Regions from separate parts of the Homo sapiens genome. Here region 2 is linked to region 1. The links come from fine-mapping of genetic effects on plasma protein levels. A gene starts in region 1. The other region holds a variant in brackets. All regions are shown on one strand. Distances are between the middles of the regions.

Region 1 (16,578 bases):
CTAAACTGCAGGATTATTTCTTCCAGGAAAAAAGAGGGAGAGAGAGAGAGATGTGTGTGTTCATGAGTGTGCGTATATGCATGTGCACATGTATTCGTGTGTGGGAGGTGAGGGGATAGAAACGAGAAGGCTAAATATTATTCTCCAAAGAAACTTGGAAAAATTTAACATGGAGGAAAGTTGAAAGCCATTCTTGCCTCCCAACTTTATGATAAAGTATTTAAACAGAAAATGTAAAAGAATGGTGTAAAAACACCCATAAACTTTCAACTTAATTCAACAGCTATTAGCATTTTCATATCTACCTACTTGTCTTTCTCTATCAGTCATCTATCTATCCATCCATCCATCCATCTATCCATCCATCCATCCATCCACCCACCTACCTACCTATCTACCTACTTACCTATCTACCTACCTAGCTATCTATCCATCCATCCATTCATGTACCTATCTATCTACCTACCTATATACCTATCATCTGTCTATCCATCTATCTACCTACCAATCTATCTACCTACCTATCATCTGTTATCTATCTATTCATCTATCTATCTACCCATCTATCAATCATCTATCTACCTACCTATTCTATCCTCTAGCTATTATCTATCTATCTGTCTATCTATCATCTATCTACCTACCTACCTCTCCATCTATTATCTACCTACCTACTTACCTATCTTCACAATGAACCATTTTAGAACAAGTTGCAGAATCATGATGTCTCAGCTCTAAATTCTTAAGCACACTTATCTTCAGCGTAGAGACAGACTCCCACAAAACCCACAGTACCATTATTACACCTAAGAAAATTAACTATATACTGTACTTGCACAACTTCCCCAAATACTCAGTTAAGGTTGTTTTCTAAACAATGACAATTCAAGTCATAAGTCTCATCCCTGTTGGTTAGGAGAGAGAAGCAGACAAGCTGTTTCCCAGAAATAGGTGTCAAGGGTTCTTGCGAAGGAAGGGTTTTAGCATCATGTAGGCTGGTTCCCATCATCAGAGTCACAAGATGAAGTACATGGGGCACAATGCTTGACTTAGATGTCAGTTTTGAACCAGATAGGGAATCCTGATCACACCATATTGTTTTTTTAAAATAGCCCTCCTCTAAACGAAAACTAAATCTCCACATTTTGGGCTGGGCTCAGGCCTGTAATCCCAGCACTTTGGGACGCTGAGGCAGGAGGATCATTTGAGCCCAGGAGTTCAAGACCAGCCTGGGCAACATGGTGAGAATCCACCTCTACAAAAGCAAAACAAAACAACAATGAAAAAACCAATGAAACAAACAAACAAAAACCAAATCTCTGCATTTCATCCAAGGTCATCACCCATTTTAGCCAAAAAAATATGTGGCTCTCAATGACTTCTTGCTGTTTCTGAAATTCAACTGCATCCTCAAAAGCCCAATAAGATATCACTAGTAGGGAGATTCAGAAAGAGATATCATGCTTTCTGAAGGCAAGTCTTGAAGAAGGGACCCTCAAGAAATCCTACACCTTGCCGGCAGCTGGAAGCGAAAATATTTATCTACGTATATGAGTTTGGCATGTTTGTTACAAAAATCATCAAAATCAATAAAAATATCAAGCCAAGAAACCCACCCAGTCCCATTATTTTATACCATGCTTTGGGAGAAAGAAAGAGATTCCATTTCAGTGACTACCATGATATTAGAAGCAAAATGATAACTGAAGGTATTGCCAGCTAAGACTTATAACAAACAAGCACATCGATGCTATTGACTGTGTTCATTACCTGTTTTCTGGCACATGAACATAACTGGCTTTCATTTTTCTTACTGAGTATTCCAGAGCTGAGATACTGCTTCAAAAAAATTAAAGAGAAAAATATGCCCAAAATATGTCAGTTGCTATCGAGTACTATTCTGATTTATCCCCGGAGGTTACTTTTTTTTTATGCTGAAAATTCCTGGAAATGACATAGAGCCCAATGTGATCCATGTGGCTGTTTTAGTGACTAAATAGGATGGACTGCCCACATCATTTACCTCACTACATCTAGTTATTGGTGAGTGGATGCCTGTTTTGGACACCATGAGCTACCTTGAGGGTAGGGACTCTGTCTTCCCTTTCTTTATGAGGAAGCCTCTCTTGTGGGGACTGGCACAGAGCTGGGAGCTCAGGTTGTGTTTGTTAAATGAAGAAGTGGTTAACTTCACTCTCGTTTATGACAAGAAATGCTTTAGCTGGGAAACGACGGTTGTACACGGATACTATCTGAAGTTGCGTAAGCTTTTTGAATTCACAATATTCCTTCTTCATTTCCAACTGGAAATGGGTTTCAGAAAGGCTCACCTTTTTAATCCTCATGGTAGCAAAATTTAGCTGTCAGGTTTTGAATAAAGAAGAGATTCTCGAGTATTATTTAATGCCAGTGGGCAAATGTTCCCAGCAGAAGCTGAAATGCTTTTCAGGGCACCTCTGAAAATCTGTAGGCTCCCAAAGCATCTTGGATGGTCAAAAAGAAAAGGCTCATCATTCCCAGGAAATCCCAGTCTTAGTAGGTAACAGGACATACAAATAAGAGGTGGGAAATGCCCAGGCTGGAAATGGGAACTTTGCCCCTTGCAAAGGACTTCTGTATTTTCCACCTGAATAGGGCCACCTTTCTCTTAGGAAATGTCAGCAGAAATCATAAATGCAATTGATGGATGATAATTGGGCCAATGTTGCTCTCAGGTAAGGCAGAAGATGTTAAAGCTGAAAAGGTCTTTGTGGGAAGTGCGTCCTGGGGTTGTAAACTAAAATGCCTCGAAGGGCCCGGACAAGCAAATTAAACAATATTGAATGGTGAGGCTGGTGACCTAAAGGAAAAAAAATACTCTCCAAACAAAACCCAACAAAACAATGCCCCCAATCCAAACAAACAGAGAACAAAAAAAAGCCCTCTGCCAGACTAACAGAACATATCTGCAGGTCTCTGAAGGGAGATGCCCTTTAGTTCCAACTCCATTTCACAGATAAGAAAACAGAGGCTGAGCAAGAGAAAGGGGCTCAGACTACACCAACTGGCTAACTCTTTTTTATTTAAAAAAATTAATTAATGAATTAATTTATGTATTTTCGAGACAGGTTCTGGCTCTGTTACCCAGGATGGAGTGCAGCGGCACAATCTCGGCTCACTGCAACCTCCGCATCCTGGGCTCAAGCTATCCTCCCACCTCAGCCTGCTGAGCAGCTGGGACCACAGGTGCACGCCACCACACCTGGCTAATTTTTTTGTAGAGATGGAGTCTCACTCTGTTTCCCAGGCTGGGCTCAAACGCTGAGCTCAAACAATCCTCCTGCCTCAGTCTCCCAAAGTGTTGGGATTACAGGCGTGAGCCACTGTGTCTGGCTGGCTCTTTTTAAAATTTCTTTTCTTTGTTATGATCACTGAGATGGGCTGGATGCTGTTTCCTTTCCAGAGTTAAACACACACACTATCCCATTAAATCCTCCTAACAACTCCCTGTAGTACTTATAATCTCTGCTGTATGAATGACATGCTGGAGAGTCAGAGATGTTAATTCTCTCACTCTGAGTCACAGAATCCACAAGTGCCCAAGCTGGCCTCTGACGTTTCCTAAGATGATTCTCAGTGTGAGGCCCTCCCTTTCAACCTGGCTGCTGCTGGCCCAGTTTGGCACTGGGGACCCCAACCCTGAGAGGGTGCCACAAATCAGGCTATGGGCTTTGATGCTACCTCCTCTGAGAAGTCCTCCCTGATTCCTTCAACCACCTGTCCTGGGTCCTACCACAGCACCTCACCTCCACCTCTCTTGCAGAAACTTCACGCCAGGTACAGGGTTTGTCTGGTGCTCACCGCTTAGCCAGACTACAGGTTTCATTAGAATGGGGCTCACACCACCTTTATCTGGGCACCTGCCCTTGGGGTCTAGCACTGGCCTTGCCATTTAACACGTGTCATGACACATACAATAAATGTGCTGACGTCTGCTGCCGAACAGCCCACGATAACTGCTGTTCATCCTTAGCATCATACGACTGTGCCAAGACCCATGTCCACTATACCCTGTTAACCATACTTGAATTAGAGACTTAGGGGCACTTTCTGTTGACACGTCATTTTCATTTAAAAGATTCGAATGGGCTCAATTTTCCAGCATTGCCAGGTGCTGCTCATCATTCTTCCACCTTAAGAATGGGCATGTGAGCAACATAAACACACTTGCAAAGGCTGAGTGGAAGGCCGATGGGCTGTGGAAATGAACTCAAACCAATGGCTTTGGTGAAATCAGTGGTAGTTAAACTGGGTTTATTAGCTCTGTGATTACTTCTTTGCAGAAGTTATACCTGATAGGTCACTTATAAAAGGAATTTTTCTAGGCCTGGCGTGGTGGCTCACACCTGCAATCCCAGGACTTAAGGAGGCCAAGGCAGGCAGATGGCTTGAGCCCAGGAGTTTGAGTCTGGCCTGGGCAGCATGACAAAACCCCGTCTCTACAAAAAATACAAAAATTAGCCTGGTGTGGTGGCACAGGCCTGTAGTCCCAGCTACTCGGGAGGCTGAGGAGAGATGATCATTTGAGCCCAGGAGGTCGAAGCCCCTTCCCTCTGAAAGGGAGAGATCAAATAGTGGGGCTAATGTCCAAGATTAGATGGGAACTCAGGGCTGACACCCAGCAAGGTCAAGGTGGGAGGAATTATTTTCAGTCTCCTCTGAGCAGTTGGTCTAATTTAGAATAACAACCAGAAAGATGAAATTAAATTTCTTTAAAGTCCGGCATTTACGGGGCTTGTACTGAAGGAAACATGAAGTTATCATCGATGAGGATTGGACAATAAGTCAAGACACTGAGGTTCTATCCCAGCTTTGGCAGTAATGTGCTGTGTGACTTTCATCGAGTCACATGCCTCTTCTGGGCCTCAGTTTCCCAATTTGTACAACGAGGGTGACAGACAAGAACTGAGAGTATTAGAATCTCCTGGAGCAACCTTGTTAAAAATAGAGATATTTCCAGTCTCCCCCAGGAATGCTGATTCGGTAGATTTAGGGTGGGGTCTGGCATCTTTGCTTTTAACCAGGGACTTGCTGTATTCTGACACTAAAGGTCCACTGGGCTGATGTTTGGCGTTCGCTGGATTAGATGATGTTTAAATGTTATCATATATTAGAACGAGGAAAATGGTCATGTCTGTAACCTATGTGGTGTTAACTACACAAACCCACACTGATCCATGGCAGGAAACATGCCCCTCTGTTCAAACAATCCAGATTAAAATGGGTCCTGAAATGCCAAATTCAACTTCCACAAATTCCAGTTTCTAATGGGAAAAAGCCCCAGTTCTCACGAGCACGGATTGTTGCCTGTGGCTCTTAACCACATTCCAAGCCCCGCACAGACCCACAGAACCTGAGTGACAGGCAACACATGAAGTCTTGTCATAAGACACCCCAAAACATCTGCAGATTGTGAGCGCAACAGGCACAGCCAAACCTGTCTGTGCTCACAATATGCAGGCGAATTGACCTCCAAATCTTCCTGCCTCCTGGGAAATCAGCGGCCCCCCAGTGGGGAAGTTTCTGGACAACTGACTGAATGGTACCTCGGACAACTCTTTGCATCTTACTCACAGAGACCCACTGGGAGCAGCCTAACCCATCACAATACCCCCGCCCTCTCACTCTTCTCCGTGCGGTCCTTCCCCAAGGAAGATGGAGGCTCCTGGGGACTGGCTTTGGCCATTTGGGAAATATAAAGAGGAGACAGAAAGGGCAAAAAGCGGGCTGCTCTGAAAGCCACGATGACACTATTGGCCCCAAATGGCTCCATGGGACACTCTTCCCTCTGTTTCGGGTTCCCTTCCTTCCTTACAATCACCAGTCTTGGCATACCAGCATTGTTTCCAGAACCCCTTTCACATACATCATCACAGAGTCTTCAAAACAGCCCCGTGTGGGAGTTACTGTTCTCATTTTACAGATAACAGAACTGAAGCTCAGAAAGGTTAAGTGATCAACCTGAGGTCACACAGCCATGGAGTGAGCTAAGCTTGGCCTCAAGCTGAGGTCTTCACCAGGTCTCTCTACCACACTGCTCACTCTTTCTCTACATGATTTGGGACTTTGGGGAAAAAAATCACACAATTTGTGGAGACAAAGCCATGCCCCTGACCATAGCGTTGGCCTCTGGCTGAACAGATGTATCAGGAAATACAGCTGTGTGTGCTAAGGTTCAGGCACATGCCAGACTGCGTAGATGCCCAGATGCATGCAAAATGCCCCAATTAAGAAGCCGAAAATTGGGGTTGAGGTCTCGGGTAGTGCCACTTACCAGCTAGGTGACTATGGCTAGGTAGTTTGGTTTGCCCCACCTCAATTTCCGCAGCTGCAAAATGGAATTCAGATGGCTGCACTGGCAACCTGAAAGTTAAGAGGCTCCAGGTGAATAATACGTGTGACAGTGCCTTGGAGCTGTCAGTGGCAGAGCCGTGCGCCCCTCAGGGCGCTTCTGAAATCCAGACTAGTGGAAAGGGGCCGGGGCCCGCCGTGGCGGTGCTGGTGGGGCGGACACCCCCTCCTTCAGGGACCTGCCGAGGCTTCTCAAACCATCCGCTGAGATGCCTTGAGGGCGGAGAATGGACGCGACCCCTGCGCACTTGGGGAGCTGCCACAAGAGCCCTTTTCCTATTTTATCTTCAGTTCTGAAAAAATAACGGGGGAAAAAATCTATGCTCCAGAGAGCTGCGTCAGTGTTCCCTGGTGTTTACGAATTTCTTGCGTTTGCCCCGACCCCAATTAGAGAAGCACTAAAGAAAGGCAGCAATTTTCCCTCATTCCTCTCGGGAGGAGAGGTCTGGGGTCTCCTTTCTGCTGTCTCCCAATGTCGTGGGCCGCCAGAGGTGAGATGAGGCGCCTATGGGCGCGCTCGCCTGCACCGCACCCTTGCCTAGCGGCGTCCCTGGGGACCCTCCCTCCGTGGTGGCTGCGTGCGCGCTTTTCTTAGGCCTGAGCGCAGGGTTTGAGCTGGGCTATGGGAGTAGAGGGAAGAATCCCATGCGTCTTTCCCAGGATTACTGGGGTAGAGATGGAGGCGAGAGCAATCTTCCGCAGCCTGTAGTACCCTGTGGGGTAGACCCCCCGGTTCCTACTGGTGGGGAAACCCTAGACCTGCGTGCGAGTCTCCCAGATCCGGTCCCAGAGCATTACAATAATGGTTTTATATATATATATATATATATATATATATATATATATATATATATATATATATATATATCAGCAACACTTCCTGCGTTATGAACGCTTACCCTGACTTCATATTCACATTTATGATTTTTTAAGGTCCTCATGACAGCCCCACGAAAAAGGTAGTTTCTCCATTTTACAGATGAGAAACTGAGGCTGGGAAAGATGAAGAGACTTACCGAAGGTCACGCAACAAGTAAAGGGTCGATCTAGGACCAGAACCCAGGGGAGTCACTGGAAAGGTTCCTGCCCTCCTCGGCTGCCTTCTCCGTGAGAGCCTCTCCTCTCTAGATGTCTACCCCAGACAGCCTGATGCGGAGCTTGGAGAGCCATGAGCTCTCTGGTCACAGTGCCCTGGGGGTGGGGGCGAGCGTCTGGCGTCCTCTGGGGCGCAGTCCCGAGAGAGCCCCTTCCGGGACCTCGGACGCAAGGCCCCTGAGTGGCCCTGGAAGTTGGATCCCCCGGGGACCCTGCTCCGAACCCTGGCCACCTGGAAGCAACCTCATCGAGCGCTCCTTCCACTGCCCAGCCCCGAACCGTGGCGGAACGCGCCCCTCGGCCTCCCTAGAGCCTCCTTTGCGGGAGAAGCACAACTTTCCCAGGTTTTGGAGACGGCGCTCTTACACCCCAATCTCGCCCAGACGGAAGAAGTGAGAGGTGCGGGCGGCCCCGCCATGACCGCGGGAGGAGAGCGCAAGGAGGCTCCTCGCAAAGTTGGAGGCCAGGCCGGAGCGATGTTCCGGGAGCGGAGCCCTCCCAGCCTCGGGCCCCCAGCCGCGGACAGCTGGCAGTGCCAAAGACTCCGCCATTACCTGCGGCTCGCAGTTGCGATTCGGCCGCAGAGTCGGGCACCGAGGAAGGCGTAAAGTTGAGCTTGGGCAGGTACAACGGTCCCCAGGGACTGGCATCCCCCAGCCCGGGCTGCCCGCGGGAGGGTAGCGAGCTGTGCCAAGGGCTCCGCCATTACCGCCAGCGCACAGCTCGGAGCCAAGCGCGCGGCTGAGGAACGACTAGGGTCTTGCAAAGTTGGAGCCTGGGCGCGTAGACCCCCGGACCGGAGCCCCCGGCCTGAGGCCGCCCGCTAGGAGGAAAATGAGGCCGCCCGAACCAAGTTGGGACGCGCAGCAAAGCCCGAGCCTTCCGCGCACACCAGGGGCTCGGGCGGGAGCGGGGAGCCCTGGGGACGGAGAAGGGGCGCGGGACGCCTGGATCAGGAACTCACCTGACGCCGAGCCGGGCAGCGCCGAGGCTGCCTCTTCGCGCTGCGCACCCGCCCGCCCGCCTCGTACTCCTCCTCTTCCTCCCGGGCGCCCGCGGCCGCCGCGCTCCGGGTTCTGAATCCTCCGAGTCCGCCGCCCCGCGCGGCTGGAGGGCGCCGGTTGCACCCACTCGCCTCCTGGTAGGAGCCGCGCGCGTCCCTCCCCTTCCCCTCCGCTTTGTGCCTCCAAGATCCCTCCCCACCCCCTCTCCCCTAGCCCCCACTCCTCCCTTCTCTTCTTCCCTCCCCTTGCGTCCCCTCCCTCAGCCTCAGCGAACCCAAGTTCGGGACGGAGGCTGCGGGCTTCCCCGGCGCAGTGCTGGGCGCCCCGCGCGCGCCCCTGGCTCACCCCGTCCGCTCGGCCGCTGCTCGCTGCCCGGCCGCCCCTCGGAGGAGCCGCGGCGCTAAGTAGCTCCTCACCCAGCGGCTGGAAACGCGGCATAAATATGTAGGGACTGAGCCGTGAGCTCAGCGAGGGTCGTGAGGGGGAATTTATTTCTTAATGTCCCTCCTTTATCCTATCATCACTGAAACGAATTAGCAGTGACGTCCAACCCGACTGGTTTATGGGTGTGGGGAGGGAGACGTCGCAACCCTCATTAAAAGAGCCGCTCTGGGCTCCAAAGCATACATCTTTTATATAACCTAATTTCCATTTTTTTTTTTCTATCAGGAAACACACACACACACACACACACACACATACACACACACACACACACACACACACACACACAATGACAATTTCTGGGAGCCTGGATAGGGCTGAATGTAGTAGCCACGCAGGGCAGGGCAGGTCTATTTGGGCAGAGAAGGCCCCATGGGAGGCAGGGATGGTTATTTCTGCCTCTACATCAGTGTTGGGATAGCATTCCTTAATGGGACAGTGGAACACACAGCCTCCCAGGCTGGGCAGTGCTGGGAGCCCCTCCCAGGAGCCCGCAGAGGTTGCAGCCTGGGTTCTGGCCTTGGCTCTCGGGTGGACAGACGGAGAAAAGCAGCCTGTTCAGGAAATGTTGCCTGGTTCTGGTCTTTTCTGGAGCCACACTCAGGCCTGGCATCTGGGGAGAGTGAAGGATGGAGGGCACATGTTCATCTGTGGCCTGGGAGCCCCACAGGTGTGGAGAGGCCAAGGTCTGGGCTGGAGGAGGGAAGACACAGAGAACGCAGCTTCCCTTCCTTTCTTAGGGGCCCTAACATATGGGTAACCATATAAACCCGACTCAAAATCTGTCTTTTCCTGGGCAGATTGCAAAGGATTTTGCATCTCCCCGTTGCTGTTGCTGCTGCTCACACAGTCTTGGGAAAACGGGGGAAAATCAAGGAAAGAGAGGACACACACACGCGCACGCGCACACGCGCACATACACACACACAAACACACACACACACACACTTGGCACCTGGCTCTGGGTGATTTGATCTTTTCCTCCTCCCCAGCCTTGCCAAGCGGAGCAAACCCACTCAGGCTTCGAGTTGCGCAGAGAAGAGGCAAAGAGGAAAACCACCACCCCCTTTGTCACTAATAAATGCTTTTCAGATCGTCTTGCACATCCAGCAGGGGAGGGGGTGTGTGACTTTGGGGGCAGGAAGAAGGGTGTGGGGGATGAGGAGGGGAGGAAGGAATAAAGAATAAGCTGACGAGGGTGCCTGGAGGTCTATGCTGTCTTCCACATGCTGGAAGGAGGCCTGGAGAAATGCCACCAGCCCCAGGGCTCTGCCACTTCCTGGCTGCCACAAGGGCAAGTTTCAGAGCCTGTTTCCTGAGCCATGGATGGGCCTGGGGATGTCGTGAGGATATACACAATGAGATGATGCTGGTGAAGCCCTTGACATGGTGCTAGACATATAGTAAATGCTCAGGAAACAGTTGCCAACAATAATGGTGATTTTGATGATGATGAGAATAATCCAGCATACAGGCTGGATGGGGGGTGGGTCCCAGAAAATTGAGGCTGGAGCTGAGTCCTTGCAGTCTGGTCCCCTCCTGTTTTGGGTCCAGCGTCCCTTGCCCGAACCATTTCAAAGTTGAGCGCTGGGTTTCAGTGGTGTCATTCTCAGAACACTGCTCCCTCAATTACCATGGCAACTGGGGAAAATCAGGAAGCTAGGGGAAGGGAAGCTGCTCTTCCACTGGGCTGGCGGTTCACCTGCTCAAAACAGAGTCCACGTCTGCCTATGTGTGGGTCAAGGCCAAAAGAAGCTCAGAGTAGGGGCACTTCCTCTCTGGGAGCACAAGCTTTTTTGAAATTGGGGAGAAGGGTGGTTGGGAGGGGATGCACGGCCACGAGATGGTGGAGATAGTGGGGTCGGGCCAAGGCTGGCTGTGCCTGCAGAAGGCAGAGTTGGCTTGGGTTTGGGGAGAGGGGGACAGAAACCCCACTCCCCTCAGTTCTCTCCTCACTTCCAGGTGCCCTGGTGCGATTAAAAGCAAAGCCTTAGAATGTAGCTCTTGAGACAGAGATCTGGGAAGACAGAGCCTCAGAGCCCACGGGTGGAGCCAGGGACCATGAGGTGCCCTCTGTGTGTGTGTGTAGATGAGAGACGAAGACAGACAGACAGACACACACACACACACACAAACAGAGAGAGTCAGAGAAGAGAGAGAGGCAGAGAGATTTATAGACAAAGAGAGAGACAGAGACAGCAGAGACTGGCAGAGACAGTGAGAGACAGAGATAGAAAAACACACAGAAAGACTGGCAGAGAGAGAGAGATTGGCAGAGACGGAGATAGAAAAAACACACAGAAAAAGAGAGAGACGGAGAGATTGACAGGAAGACAGAGACTTATTGGCAGAGACAGAGAGAAAGACAGAGAAAACAGAGGGAGACAGATTGGCAGAAAGAGAGTAAGAGAAGAGAGAGGCAGAGGGATTTGCAGAGAGAGAGAGACAGATTGGCAGAGACAGAAAGAAAAAATACACAGAGAGACATATTGGCAGAGAGAAAAAGAGAGACAGAGTAAGAGAAGAGAGAGAGGCAGAGAGAGATTGGTAGATTGGCAGAGAGATTGGCAGAGAGAGAGAGAGATTGGCAGAGAGAGAATGGCAGAGACAGGAAAGAGAGACAGAGATACAGAGAAAGACGGACAGTGACAGACAGAGCCAGATACTTCCCTTCCCTCCCTCTGGTGGTTTCCCCAGGATTAACGGGAACTATGGACAACACTAGTTGCGGTAGTAAAGAGAACAATGGCCATCTTCTGTTGAGCACTTCCCATTTTGCTGGTTTTGAGCCACGCATTTAATAGGTATAACTCACTGAACCATCATAAAAATGGTAAGAAATGACTCCCTTTCTTATTCCCATTTTACAGAGGGAGAAAATAGAGGCTCTGGAGGCAAAGTGACTTGCTCCAGGTCACCCAGGTAATCTGTGGTAAAGCAGATATTAGAACTCGGGACCCCAAAGTGGAGCTTTTCCTGCCTCCTCGCCGCTGTCTTGTGGAGAAAGAGGGAGAGGGAGGATGTCAGAGCCATCTGGGGAGTGTCTAGGGTTTGGGGAGAGTGGCTCCTGGTGTTTGGGGACCCCTACCACATGAGTACGGACAGTGTCTCCAGAGATCCCCAGCAAGTGGAGGGAAGAGACTTTTACCATCAACCAGGTGGCCTTGGGACAGTCCCCAAAATGCCCCTTGGGTGTAGTGCCTTGGAAGCTGCTCTGGGCTGTCACAATAACCTGATTCCACCAGGACCTCTCTGGGGTTCAGGGGGAGATGAGGGTTGTGCCACCCTTCTCTCGAGCTATTGGAAGATCAAACCAGCTGAGACCCATCCAGGCATCAGCGTAGGGCAGGCACTTCATAAATGGTCACCGTGATAACAATTATTCTTGGTCCTTCTCTCAGGACCACACCCCTCAACCCCTGCATGGATGGTGGATGGGTGTAAAGGGTGTCCCTTCCCCCCCAGCCTCCCAGCCACTCTGGACCCTCACTGGTGCCCACCCCTCAGTGCAGAGGTGGACCCCAGGGGAGTGGAGTGCTCTGGCGGAGCCCTGGGCAGGAGGAGGAAGGGAGGAGGCTGGCCTCACTGACGTGGCTGTCACTGAGGGGGTAATACATTATCCAGGGCTAATGAAAACATAATTATCTTCTTTTGGCTGCAGAGAGGGGCTAATTTAATAGGCTGTGATCGAAAGGCATCTGCTGAATTCACCCAGCAGTGAAAACACTTGAAGCGCTTCAGGGGGCGGAAATGGACAGAGTGTGGCTGGCCGGGTCCGGCAGCTGTGTCCAGGTGGCAGCTCCCCTGGGAAGAAGGGGGTTCCTGGGGGTGCAGCAGAGGGGATGTGGCTGCTGGTAGGTGTCCTGTGCACAAACAGACCTGGGCTTCTTTCTTGCCATGAGTTCTGGGGCCAGTTATTTCTCTCTCTCAGCCTCACCTTCCTCATCTGTAAAATGGGCGTTAATCCTACCTTCCTGACATTGACTGGGAGGAGCAGATGAACGATATGAGAGAGAGCCTGGCACATTCTAAGTAAGTGTTTCACAAAATTTTCATCCCTCTTCCTGGGCTGGCTCTACTCGGCCTTCAAGTCTTAGCGCGAACTCCCCCACTTGGGAGCAGCCCCAAGCACTCTGCATGTCCCTCTTCAGAACATACAAGTTCTGTGATATTTACTTGTTCAATGCCCTCATGAGGGCAGGGTGGTCTGTCTCATCCGTCACTCCAAGGCAGTGGTTCTCAAAGCGTGTTCCCTGAATGATGAGGTCAGCATCACCTGAGAACTTGCTAGTGATGCTGATTCCAAGTCCCCACCTCAGACCACCTGAATTAGACCCTCAGGGTGGGGCCCTGCAATCTGCATTTTAAACAAGCCAGCCAGGTAATTCTGATGCATGCTCAAGTTTGAGAACCTCTGTTCCCACCAAAAACCGAACAAATGTTTGTTTAAATAAGTAGAAGAAGAGTTTACTATTAAGCTGGGGTTCAGCTATGTGATGACAATGTCTCCCTTATTAGACACCAACTATATACCTAGTCCTCTGCATTATGCCCTTGAACCTACCAAGCCATCCCTTTATCCATCACTTACCATTTCCCACACTACTTCATCCCCAAGAAATGCCCCTTGGTCTGCCTCATTGTCCTGCCTTGCTGGCCCGTTGGAGGTGTTGGAAGACCCATGGGGTGCCTCCTCTGTGTCCTTCCTGTTCCCATGGTGCGTAGGTCCCCTCTCTCCCTTAAGCAGCCCCGTCCACCCAGGGCTTCTGATTCTGGAAAGGAATTATGCTTTTGACCCTGTCTCTGGGTATTTGGCTGGGAAAGTGATTTGGACCTGCTTGTTGTGAAGGATGGCACCCATTGGTCAGTTCTGCAGTTAGAGTAAGGAAGGGCCCTTGGAGATGGCTGCCTCCAACCTAGCGTTTTACACTGGGGAGGCCAAGATCCAGGAAGGTTTGACAATTCATCCAGGGGCAGCAGCCTATCAGTGACAGATCAGTTTCCTGTCCTAACTCCCAGTTCAGGATGCAGGGTCTGAGCCTCCTAAGAGCAAAGTGGGTGTCACTAAAGTGGCCGGGGGCATGCTTCTGTAGGACCCAGGAAAAATGAACAGCGAACAGGGTTGTCTGAGAGCCCAGAACCCCCAGGAGAGGTAGGAGCATTATAGTTTCTGGGCATGTCAAAGACTCCTCCAGATATTTACAGGACTCTGGCAGAGAATAAAGAGGGAAGAACACTTTAAGGCTTAAAGAGGCAGCCTGAGCATTAAAAACACTAGATTTGTGGCTGGAACACCTGCTTTCCAGACCTGGCACTTCCACTAATGTGCAATGTGAGCTCAAGGAAACTCCTTGGCATCTCTGGGTCTCAGAAGATCTTAACCTGAAGATGGCCAAGTCCCTGGAATTATATGCAAAATCAATTGCAAGTGCGTTTTGCTGGGGTAGAAGGTTCATAAGTGTGCAGCGGCTTTTTAAAGGGTGTGAGACCTTGGAAAGGTTAAAAACAATTTCTTGCCTGAGAGCCGGCTGGCAAATTTGCAGATGCCTGAAGCTCTATGCAGACCGTTTGTCAGAGATGCAGTTTCCTAAATGACCAACAGATGGCGCGCTAAACCTTCGCTGTAGCCTTCCTGTTTTCCCGGAGACCAGCCAGGTAGGTCCATGGCTTCCTATATTCAGCTTTCAGGACCAGAACCTAGGTCCCCGCTAAGCTGGGCTGACCTGGGTGGGTTGAGAATGCTGGATCACCCCAGAAACTGTCTGCATCTCCTAGTTCCCAGCATCTGTCCACATAGAGAAGGCATTAAAAAGAATGTGAGGGCATAGGCAGGAAACGGGGTGGGGGTTGCAAGCACACCAGAGGACCAAGTAAAACATTGAGAGGAGTCCTAAGTTTGTTCTTCATACCCTCAATTGAGTCCTTCGGTTATTCCCTTCACCCTCATTACAGAATTCCCTGGTCATCTCGCCCCAATTAAAGGCAACACATTGCAAAAATTCTCTAAGCCTGGAGTTCTGATGGTCTAAATTGCACTGGGGTATGAAGGGCTGGTCAAAGTATTTGCATTTTGAAGGCACTGTTAGAGAGAAGCCAGTGCTAACCGGTGTTGCAAATGTACATACTTCCAGGGAACATGAAGTGGGCTGGGTGGGAGACATCAGGGAGTAGTGGAGCCTGTGGCTAACTGGAGCACATGCCCCTCCTAAAGACATTCACATTCAGATGTTTCCAAAATAGCGTTCCATCCAACTAAATCACTTGGGCCACTAGTATAGGAGCTCTGACCAAGGAAATGGGTTTCAGCCTGGTTAGTGGAGCTGTCTGAGTGGCAAAGAAGGTCTTAATCAGAATGTAAAATAGTGACTCCCAAACTCTCAGATGTATAAGAATTCCCTGAGAAGGGGAACACCAGCTCCTTGACCCTGCCCTCAAAGACTGGGAGTCTATAGCTCTTGGGTGGTACCCAAGAGGCTGTATTTTTAATAAGCTCTCCAGGGGAAACTGAGGCAGGTTGTCTTCTGGTTCTAAGTTGGCTACCCTGAGCTGGTAAGGCCACCCCAGTGTGCTGGACTGGGTCCTTACCCTTGCTCAGCAGATAACTGGAGTTCAATGACAGAGCTTCTCAGCACCAGTGACATCCCCTCAAGATGAAAGCAGAGATCTCTTACAATTCTGCCCTCCCCACCATATCACAGACATGTGCAAAAAAGATGACATGGGTTGACTTATTTCTAAGAATTAGGCAAATTCTGAGACCAGTCCCTAGGGGAGGATAATGGGGAGGTGGTTGAAAGAGGAAGAGGTAAGTGTTCTGGAAAGCTCCCAAACCAGGGCCAGGGTATCTGACTTCTTTATTTGACTCTAGCCTCCATCTGCTGTGTGACCTTGGGCAAGTCCCCTCCTCCCTCTGGGCCTTAACTTCACCATGTATAAAATTAAGAAGTGGTAGACTGGAGCATAGCTTCTTCCTCTGTTCTAGGACCACCTTGGGCTCTCCAGCAGTGTCTTGGGGTCTGCCTGTCATGCAGGTCAAGGGGGAAGGTTGGGGAGCTGAGCTCTGAGCTCACTCAGAGCTGTTCTGTTTTTAATCTGTCTGTGTATCTGGCTTCTTCATTCAGCTTTCATTGAGAGCTATTGGCCTGGCATCTTCTAGCATACATATAATCATTCTCTTTCCCCTCTTTCTGGTGGTCCACATGCCTGGCACTATGCCAGGGGGCTGGGGCAACCAAGACCCCCAGGCAGGCTTCTGGCTCATGAAGCACTCAGTGCCAATGGGGAAGTCAGATGAGCTCACAGTCCATAGGCCGTAACAACCAAGCCTGCTAGTGTGCTGACGCTTTGCAGCCTACACTGCCCAGAACCATGGAAAGGGATCCTGCTGGCCTCACCCTGAGTTTTAAAGCCTTAATGAGAGAACCCATTTTCTTCTCCACAGCCTGACAGCCTAGAGCTCTGTTAGCTTCATATGCTTTGACATTTGATTTATTCAAACAGACATGCGAGCAAACTGTCTTAGACTCTTCTCTAATTGTGTGGAAGAGGGGAGGGTGCAATGATCGGGCGTGATATGAAAGCTTTGGAGTCAGTCCTGGGCTTTGCTACTTCCTAGCTGTGCAATCTTAGGCAAGTTAATTACCCT
Region 2 (8,000 bases), 100 kb before region 1:
GGATCTTCAAGTGACCAGTCCTGATTCTAGGGCCTTCTCTTGTATGTTGAGTCAAACCATAACACTCCCATGGCCTCTTCTATAATCTACCAACTTACCCTTGTCCACCACAGTGGTAACTGTTCATCTGCACTTGGTCTTAACTGGTACTAAAAAGGTTTCTGGCCATGCTTAACTCAGGAAACCTGAGACCCATAAAGTTAAAATGATTTAATCAGTAAGAAGTCAGGAACAGAACTAACTACTCCCCTAAACCATGAGACCATGCTCCCTTGTTTCTAAAAAAAAAAAAAATTTTTTTTTGAGACAGAGTTTCACTCTTGTCGCCTGGGCTGGAGTGCAATGGCACGGCCTCGTCTCACTGCAACCTCTGCCTCCTGGGTTCAAGTGATTCTCCTGCTTCAGCCTCCCAAGTAGCTGGGATTACAGGCATGTGCCAACATGCTCAGCTAATTTTGCATTTTTAGTAGAGACGGGGTTTCACCACATTTGCCAGGCTGGTCTCAAACTCCTGACCTTAGGTGATCCACCTGCCTCGGCCTCCCAAAGTGCTGGGATTACAGGTGTGAGCCACTGCACCTGGCTGTTTCTCAAATTTTAATGTGTACAAGAATCATCCTGGGATTTCATTAAAATGCAGATTCTGATTAAGTAGTTCTGGGACCTGGCTTGGGGTTCTGCATTTCTAACGAGCTCCCAGGAGATGCCAGTGTCTCCAGACTTCATTTTAAGTAGCTAGAAACTAGACCATGCTGTCCAAGATGGCAGCCATTGGCTAAGTGTGGCTATCTAAAGTTAAATTAATTTGAGTTAAATACAAGTCAATGTGGTTGGTACACTGCAAACCTCCCTAGGTGATTCTGATGTGCATTCAGCTTTGAGAACCACTGGGTCATAGCAGGGTGTCACTTGCACCAGCCACATTTCAGGGGCTCCGGAGCCACGTTTGGTTAGTGGCTGCTATAGTGGACAGCACAGATATAGAACATTTACATCTCTCTAGAAAGTTCTTCTGGACAGTGCTGGAGTATCCCATTCAATACTGTCCTTCCATAAAGTTATGGTCCTTAGACATTTCAGGGCTCTATCAAATTTCACATTTCAAGTAAATATGAACAATGTTCAGCACTGACGCCTGGCATGGAAAGAGACTGCATTTTTTAAATTAATACCTAATGCTAAATGACGAGTTAATGGGTGCAGCACACCAGCATGGCACATGTATACATATGTAACTAACCTGCACATTGTGCACATGTACCCTAAAACTTAGAGTATAATAATAATAAAATTAAAAAAATAAATTATTTGGAAGGTGAAGGAAGATGTCTTTGGGACTCAAATCTCAGCATGAGAGGCTCAGGAACCTTGATATTAAAAAAAATCCAATTTCTCCGTTTTCCTCCAAAAATGGTAAGTTGTGCTCTCAGGCAAGGCAAAACAAAACAAAGCAAACAGAAACAAACAAAAAATCTGAGACCAAACAAACAAGCAACCAAAACTCCAAAACAAAACCCAAAACTCAAGAAGCAAACCCAACACACAAATCTAATTACAAAAAATTAAAAAGAAATGAGAAAATTAAAAAAAGAGAGAAAAAGAAGAAAAGAAATTGTGCATTCTAGCAGCAGGGTTTCTAAGCTGGATGTTCTTTAAAGTTTTCGCTCCAGCATCAGGAAAGTTCTAAATATATGTAAGTGTATTTTCTGCCCTAAAATAGTCTCACATTGAGTCATGCAATATATCAGGGGGTGGCTGTGTTGTTAGTGTGGGAGGAATGGTTGATGGTTGTGGGTAAAAATAACAGCACGTGCATTTGTATGAGGTTGGAGGTTTTTTCAAATGCTTTCCTTTTTGTTATTACCCTTTGACCCTGCCAATAGGCCACAGAAGTGGGTAGGGCAGAGCTAATTTCTCCCCATTCGGCAGATGAGAAAGACCAAGGCCCACAGGGGTTAAGCGACTTGCTCAAGGTCACTTAGTGAGTTAGTGACACAGCTCAGGTTAGAACTCGGATCTCCTTGAGACCTAGATGTGTGGCCTGGGATGCTCAGGCATTGGGTGTGCATGCATACACTCGCACACACCTGCGTGTACACACATGCACACTCTACCTGTGCTGGCTGTCACGGGCTGCAGCCAGACCGTGGACTTCTGTGTCACCATTGGGGAGGGGAGGCCCTTTACGGGGAAAGAAACGCAAGGGTTCCGGGTACCTAGAGGGGAGAATCGATGGTGCCCTATCTCTCCCTGAAGGAGGGGTGAGAGGGAACCTGCTGGGAGGCCATCTAGGATGGGGTGGGAAGGAGAGAGGTAAGGAGAGTGAGGACTAAGATGCTGGAGTTGGGCGTAGAACGAGGGCTGACCACAAAGGACTCAGCAACGGTCAGTCTCCTGGGTATCAAACTTATGTGAATACGGCAGCATGTTCTCTGCACAAAGAAAATCAGAAGGGATTTTCTGTTTTTTTTTTTTGAGACGGAGTCTCACTCTGTCACCCAACCTGGAGTGCAGTAGCGCAATCTCGGCTCACCGCAACATCTGCCTCCCAGGCTCAAGTGATTCTCCTGCCTCAGCCTCCTGAGTAGCTGGGATTACAGGTGCACTCCACCATGGCCAGCTAATTTTTATGTTTTTAGTAGAGACGGGTTTCACCATGTTGGCCAGGCTGGTCTCGAACTCCTGACCTTAGGTGATCCTCTCGCCTCAGCCTCCCAAAATGCTGGGATTACAGGCATGAGCCACTGTGTCTGGCCTCAGAAGGGATTTTCTGCTTAACACAGCCAAAAAACACCAGCCAGCTAGAGCATTTGATGTTCACCTTAAGACACAGGGATCTGCTTGCTCCATGCTGGAGCAAATACTGAGTTGGCCTCATGGAAAGGCAGCTCAGCGTGCACACACCATGTGTCCTATACCTTATGGGGGATGCAAGGGCTTTTCAAGGGTCATTAACAAAAATTTTTTTGTCATGGTGCGGTGGCTCAGGCCTGTAATCCCAGCACTTTGGGAGGCTGAGGCAGGCAGATCACCTGAGGTCAGGAGTTCGAGACCAGCCTGGCAAACATGGTGAAAGCCTGTCTCTACTAAAAATACAAAAATTAGCCAGGCATGGTGGTGTGTGCCTGTAATCCCACCTACTCGGGAGGCTGAGGCTGCAGAGTCGCTTGAACCCAGGAGGCGGAGGTTGCAGTGAGCTGAGATCGTGCCATTGCACTCCAGCCTTGGTGATAACAGCGAAACTTCATCTCAAAAAAAATTTTTTTATTTTTATTTTTTAGAGACAGGGTCTTGCTCTGTTGTCTAGGCTGGGGTGCCGTGGTATAATTATGGCTCACTGTAGCCTCAAGCCCCTGAGCTCAAGTGATCCTCCTGCCTCAGCCTCTGGAGTAGCTGGGACTTCAGGTGCACACTACCATGCCCAGCTAATTTTTAATTTTTTTGTAGAGATGGGATCTTGCTATATTGCCCAGGCTGGTTTGAACTCCTGGCCTCAAGCAATCCTCCTGCCTCAGCCTCCCAAAGCACTAGGATTATAGGCATGAGCCACCGTGCCCAGCCATCAATGGTAAGTTTGATTAGATGCTTTTTTACTTTACCAAATACCTTTAGAACTCAATCCCACATTAGATGCGGTTCCATTACAAACATATTTTTGACTACAGGTATGTTTTGTCTTACAAGGTATCTTATCTTTTGAACTCAACTTCTAGATTAGCTGCAACTTCACTGTGAGCATCAGACAGGAAGCTTTTAAGGAAAGAAGTTCCATTCTTTGATTTTAGCTTTTTTTTTTTTTTTTTTTTTTTTTGACAGGTCTGGCTGTTCAGGCTGGCCTCAAATTCCTGGGGCCAAGTGATCCTTCTGGCTCAGCCTCCAGAGTAGCTGAGACTATAGGTGTGCACTACCATGCCTGACTGCCTTGCACTGATTTTGAATGTAGGTTCTCAAAGAGGGAAAAAGAATA[A/G]TATTTACACAGTGCTTTTTTTTTTTTTTTTTTGAGATGGAGTTTTGCTCTTGTTGCCCAGGCTGGAGTGCAATGGTGCGATCTTGGCTCACTGCAACCTCCTCCTCCCAGGTTCAAGCGATTCTCCCGCCTCAGCCTCCCGAGTAGCTGGGATTACATACATGCGCCACCACGCCCGCCTAATTTTTGTATTATTAGTAGAGATGGGGTTTCACCATGTTGGCCAGGCTGGTCTCGAACTCCTGACCTTGTGATCCATCTGCCTCGGCCTCCCAAAGTGCCGGGATTACAGGCGTGAGCCACCACGCCCAGCACACAGTGCTTTTACATCTAGTTTGTGATTTGATTCTTACTAATTAGAAAGTCAAGGTAGGTGCTATAATCTCTATTTGATAGAAAAGGAAACTGAGGCACAAGGCTGTGAAGTGACCCAGATACCAAAATATTTGCCCCAGTAGACTGCAGACACCTCACAACTAAGACCCATTACAAATGGACTTCAGATTACAGCCACCATCCAGAACTCAAATGTGAACCCCAGGTGCCAAAAGTCAATGTCCAGTTACCCTCGGGGGTGGCGGGTGACGTCGGAGGGGTCATTCACTTACTTCCTTTCTTCCTGCACAGAGTTGGGGTGCCTCATTTCCATCAAAGCACAGCCGAATTTCTGGAAGCCAAAACATATGGGTGAAATTAGCACATCTTAGTAAATGGGAAATCAGGTCGGATACTGAGGGTCTGGGGTCCTGGCTGTCAAAGAGGAGACTGATGCCCGGAGGCCAGGATGTCAGGAGCGGTCAGGGGCTCAGGCTGGACAGTAATGCCTGGGCTACAGACGCAGTGGATACACCTGCTGTTTAAATGACTACAGGTGTGGACTCCCTACCCCCAGCACACAACTTCCCGTTGGAGCCTTCCTTCTATAAAAATATTGTCCCCATGTTCCTCATCTACATCAGGGAACATCAAGCTAATGATAGGAGCAGCCACTGCAAACAAATAGCTCACTTAGGTGACAATATTTTCACCAGGGACTTGCTAACTAATGGACGCCAGTAGACTGAGTACTTGGAATTGTCCAACCTTTGTATAACTTGGATCCAAATGGAAATTACTGGCTTTCAGGCTCTGGGAGGGTTTGCTACTGAATAGCAGGTGTAGGAAGAGTCTCAACCTTGGCCCCTACTTCTTCCTGATGATGGAACCACACTCTTGAACAGGTAAAAGCTCATCTCACCTCCCCATTCTCAGGGGGATCTCCATTGCCAAAGGTGCTGGTGACCACAAGGACCAGAGTTTCATGTTCCAGGTGCACAATGTCATATTCTTCCATGGACATCACCTAGGTGGGCAGGGCACAGGTATAGGATGGGGAGAGGAAGAAGGGGATGAGGAGAGAAAAGAGGTGGGAGAGACAAAAAGTGATGGGGGAAGGGCAAGAGGAGAGAAAGGAAAAATGTGAGTCATTTTGGGTCATCTCCTTTGGAAGGAGAACCAAAAGATCTGAGGTGTTAGTACTTCAGTGGGCTCAAGTGGGTAGAACTAAACGCTTTTTGGTAGCGTGGGACCTTGCTATGGTCACTGTGGCCTGAAGGGTTGTGGAGAATCTGAAGCAATGGTTCAAGGGATTGGCAGATACTAGAAACACAGCTTGATGGAATCCCATGGGATTCTTATAGTCAATTGGTCTTGGATTCTTCCTGACCCCAGTTAGGCCGGGAATGATCTGGCTAGAGCTGACTAAGTCTTCTCAACCTCCTCTCTAATCCTCCCCCGAGCAGTGTGGAGCACCTGGCCAAACAAGTCTGAGATATCTGCCTTCTGGAAAGATGATTGCCCTGTGTCTCATCATCGTCTGAGCAACATTTCTCAAAATAGGTTCTAGAAAATCCCAGTCTCCTGAGATGCTCCATGAAAACAAGCGATCCACGATCAAACATGTTTGGGAAACGTCTATATTCTATCCTCGCCTCTTTTGGAGATTAGAACACATGCTTATAGATTACAGGCTCTGGGAAGTCCTGCCACAGCAATGAAAACCATCGAGCTGGCCGGGTGCGGTGGCTCACGCCTGTAATCCCAGCACTTTGGGAGGCCGAGGCGGGCGAATCAAGAGGTCAGGAGATCGAGACCATCCTGGCTAACACAGTGAAGCCCCGTCTCTACTAAAAACACAAAAAATTAGCCGAACGTGGTGGTGGGCGCCTGCAGTCCCAGCTACTCGGGAGGCTGAGGCAGAAGAATGGCGTGAACCCGGGAGGTGGAGCTTGCAGTGAGCCGAGATCGCGCCACTGCACTCCAGCCTGGGTGACAGAGTGAAACTCCTTCTCAAAAAAAAAAAAAAACAAAAAACAAAAAAACAAAAAAACAAAACCAAAAAACCATCGAGCTGTACTTCAGGCAAAGCTTCCCAAACTGACCTCAGAATGGTTTCTTATAAACCCTCTAACATTTTGCTCTAAAGAGGGGAATTTCATTTTGTGACTCCTGGACTCATGGGGACAGGGATATCACAGTCCCCTGAAATTTATGCAAATGTGTATGTGAGCTGATAGGCCCTGTCAGGTGTGCTTTCATCCTTTGCCAAAGGCTTCTTCTCTGTTGACTTCCCTCTCTCCCCTTCCTGCCTTAATTCACCATGAGAAGCTGGTGGAGCTAGGGCTACCCCCCACCTACCTTGGCATCAAAGGCGTGTTTGAAGATCTCACACAAGGTCTTGGCATAAGCTTGCGATTTGCCTGTCTCTGTGGCATAGAGGATGGTCGCTTTCACCCTCTTGGCCATAGCCTGCCCCATCAGCTTGGCCGAGAACTTGACAGCTCTGGAGGGAAGAGGATGGAGATGAAAAATGGGCAACAGAAAAGGGGAGAGAAGATGCTGGATTGGGACTTTCGTGCAAGAACCAGGATCCATGAAATATAACAGAAGAGAACTCTCTTGATCTTTGATGGCTTCAGGGGTTTCCTCAGAGGCACTTGAAGTCTTTGTGTTTAAGCACCGTATTATTAAAGTATTATTAAATCCTTTATTTTATTTTATTTTTTAACTTCTCTAGAGATAATGCTGGATATTAAATCCTTTATTAAATCCCACCAGAGGCCGGGTGTGGTAGCTCATGCTTATAATCCCAGCACTTTGGGAGGCCGAGGCAGGTGGATTGCCTGAGCTCAGGAATTTGCCACCAGCCTGGGCAACAAGGTGAAACTCCGTCTCTACTAAAATACAAAAAAATTAGCCGGGAGTGGCAGCGTGCGCCTGTAGTCCCAGCTACTTGGGAGGCTAAGGCAAGAGAATTGCTTGAACCCAGGAGGTGGAGGTTGCAGTGAGCCGAGATCGCACCACTGGGCACCACTGCACTCCAGCCTGGGCGACAGAGTGAGACTCTGCCTCAAAAAAAAAAAAAAAAAAAAAAAAAAATCCCACCAGAGCAATTAGTCATGAATTAAAAGGAGTAGTTAGTTTTGTTAGCTTGTTACTTGATTGATCCCAGGCTTAAGAACCTTGGTTTGCCAAGCATTGCCTCAAAAGATGATCGTTCATCCATTTCCTCTCTCTTTCATTCATCAAATATTTATTAAGTGCTTAACTATGTGTCAGTATTGTTATAGGAAATGGAGACCACAGAGAACATAGCTATGGAATGCAGCTGTCATAGGGCTCATATTCTAATGTGTGTGTGTATGCACATGTGTGAATGAGAGAAAGAGAGAGAGAAATGAATCACGAATTAGTCACCAGGCATTGAGTTTGATGGGATTTAGAGGTTTATTGGTCCACAAGGGAAGGACCAGGTCTGATTTATTCAGCAATGCATGTCAAGGGTCTTGCACAGAGCCTGATACCCAACAGGCACTAAATAAATATCTATCAAAAGAAGTTATGGGATGGGCATAGTGGCTCATGCCTGTGATCCTGGCACTTTGGGAGGCTGAGGCGGGAGGATCACTTGAGGCCAAGGGTTTGAAACCAGCTTGGTCAACAGAGTGAGACTTTGTCTCTACAAAAAAGAAATAAAAGAAGTTATGAATTTTAA

Alleles and levels. Alleles are on the strand shown, and positions count from the first base shown. The strength of an association depends on the size of the effect and on how common the allele is.
In carriers of allele A in region 2, the plasma level of the protein whose gene starts at base 8,949 in region 1 tends to be higher than with G alone (moderate association).

The links. A credible set is the group of variants that fine-mapping cannot tell apart. PIP is the posterior inclusion probability: the model's chance that the variant is causal. Protein levels are from antibody-based Olink assays in UK Biobank. Linkage for the fine-mapping came from a reference panel and not from the study's own genotypes, which makes the PIPs less certain.
Region 2: its variant is the best candidate, but not a certain one, in a credible set for the plasma level of the NOS1 protein (UK Biobank, PIP 0.67).

What each region holds. Positions count from the first base shown.
Region 1 is chr12:117,352,678-117,369,255 of GRCh38, forward strand. NOS1 (nitric oxide synthase 1) reads right to left here and starts at 8,949. Exons shown (of 29, transcript NM_000620.5): 1 at 8,835-8,949. RefSeq lists promoters at 8,450-10,727, 8,450-8,610, 8,835-8,907, 9,074-9,995.
Region 2 is chr12:117,253,822-117,261,821 of GRCh38, forward strand. NOS1 (nitric oxide synthase 1) reads right to left here. Exons shown (of 29, transcript NM_000620.5): 14 at 6,644-6,788; 15 at 5,205-5,309; 16 at 4,576-4,634. Among named protein-coding and RNA genes, the nearest start is that of FBXO21, 67 kb to the left of the region's middle. The variant A/G (reference allele first, on the strand shown) is at 3,968.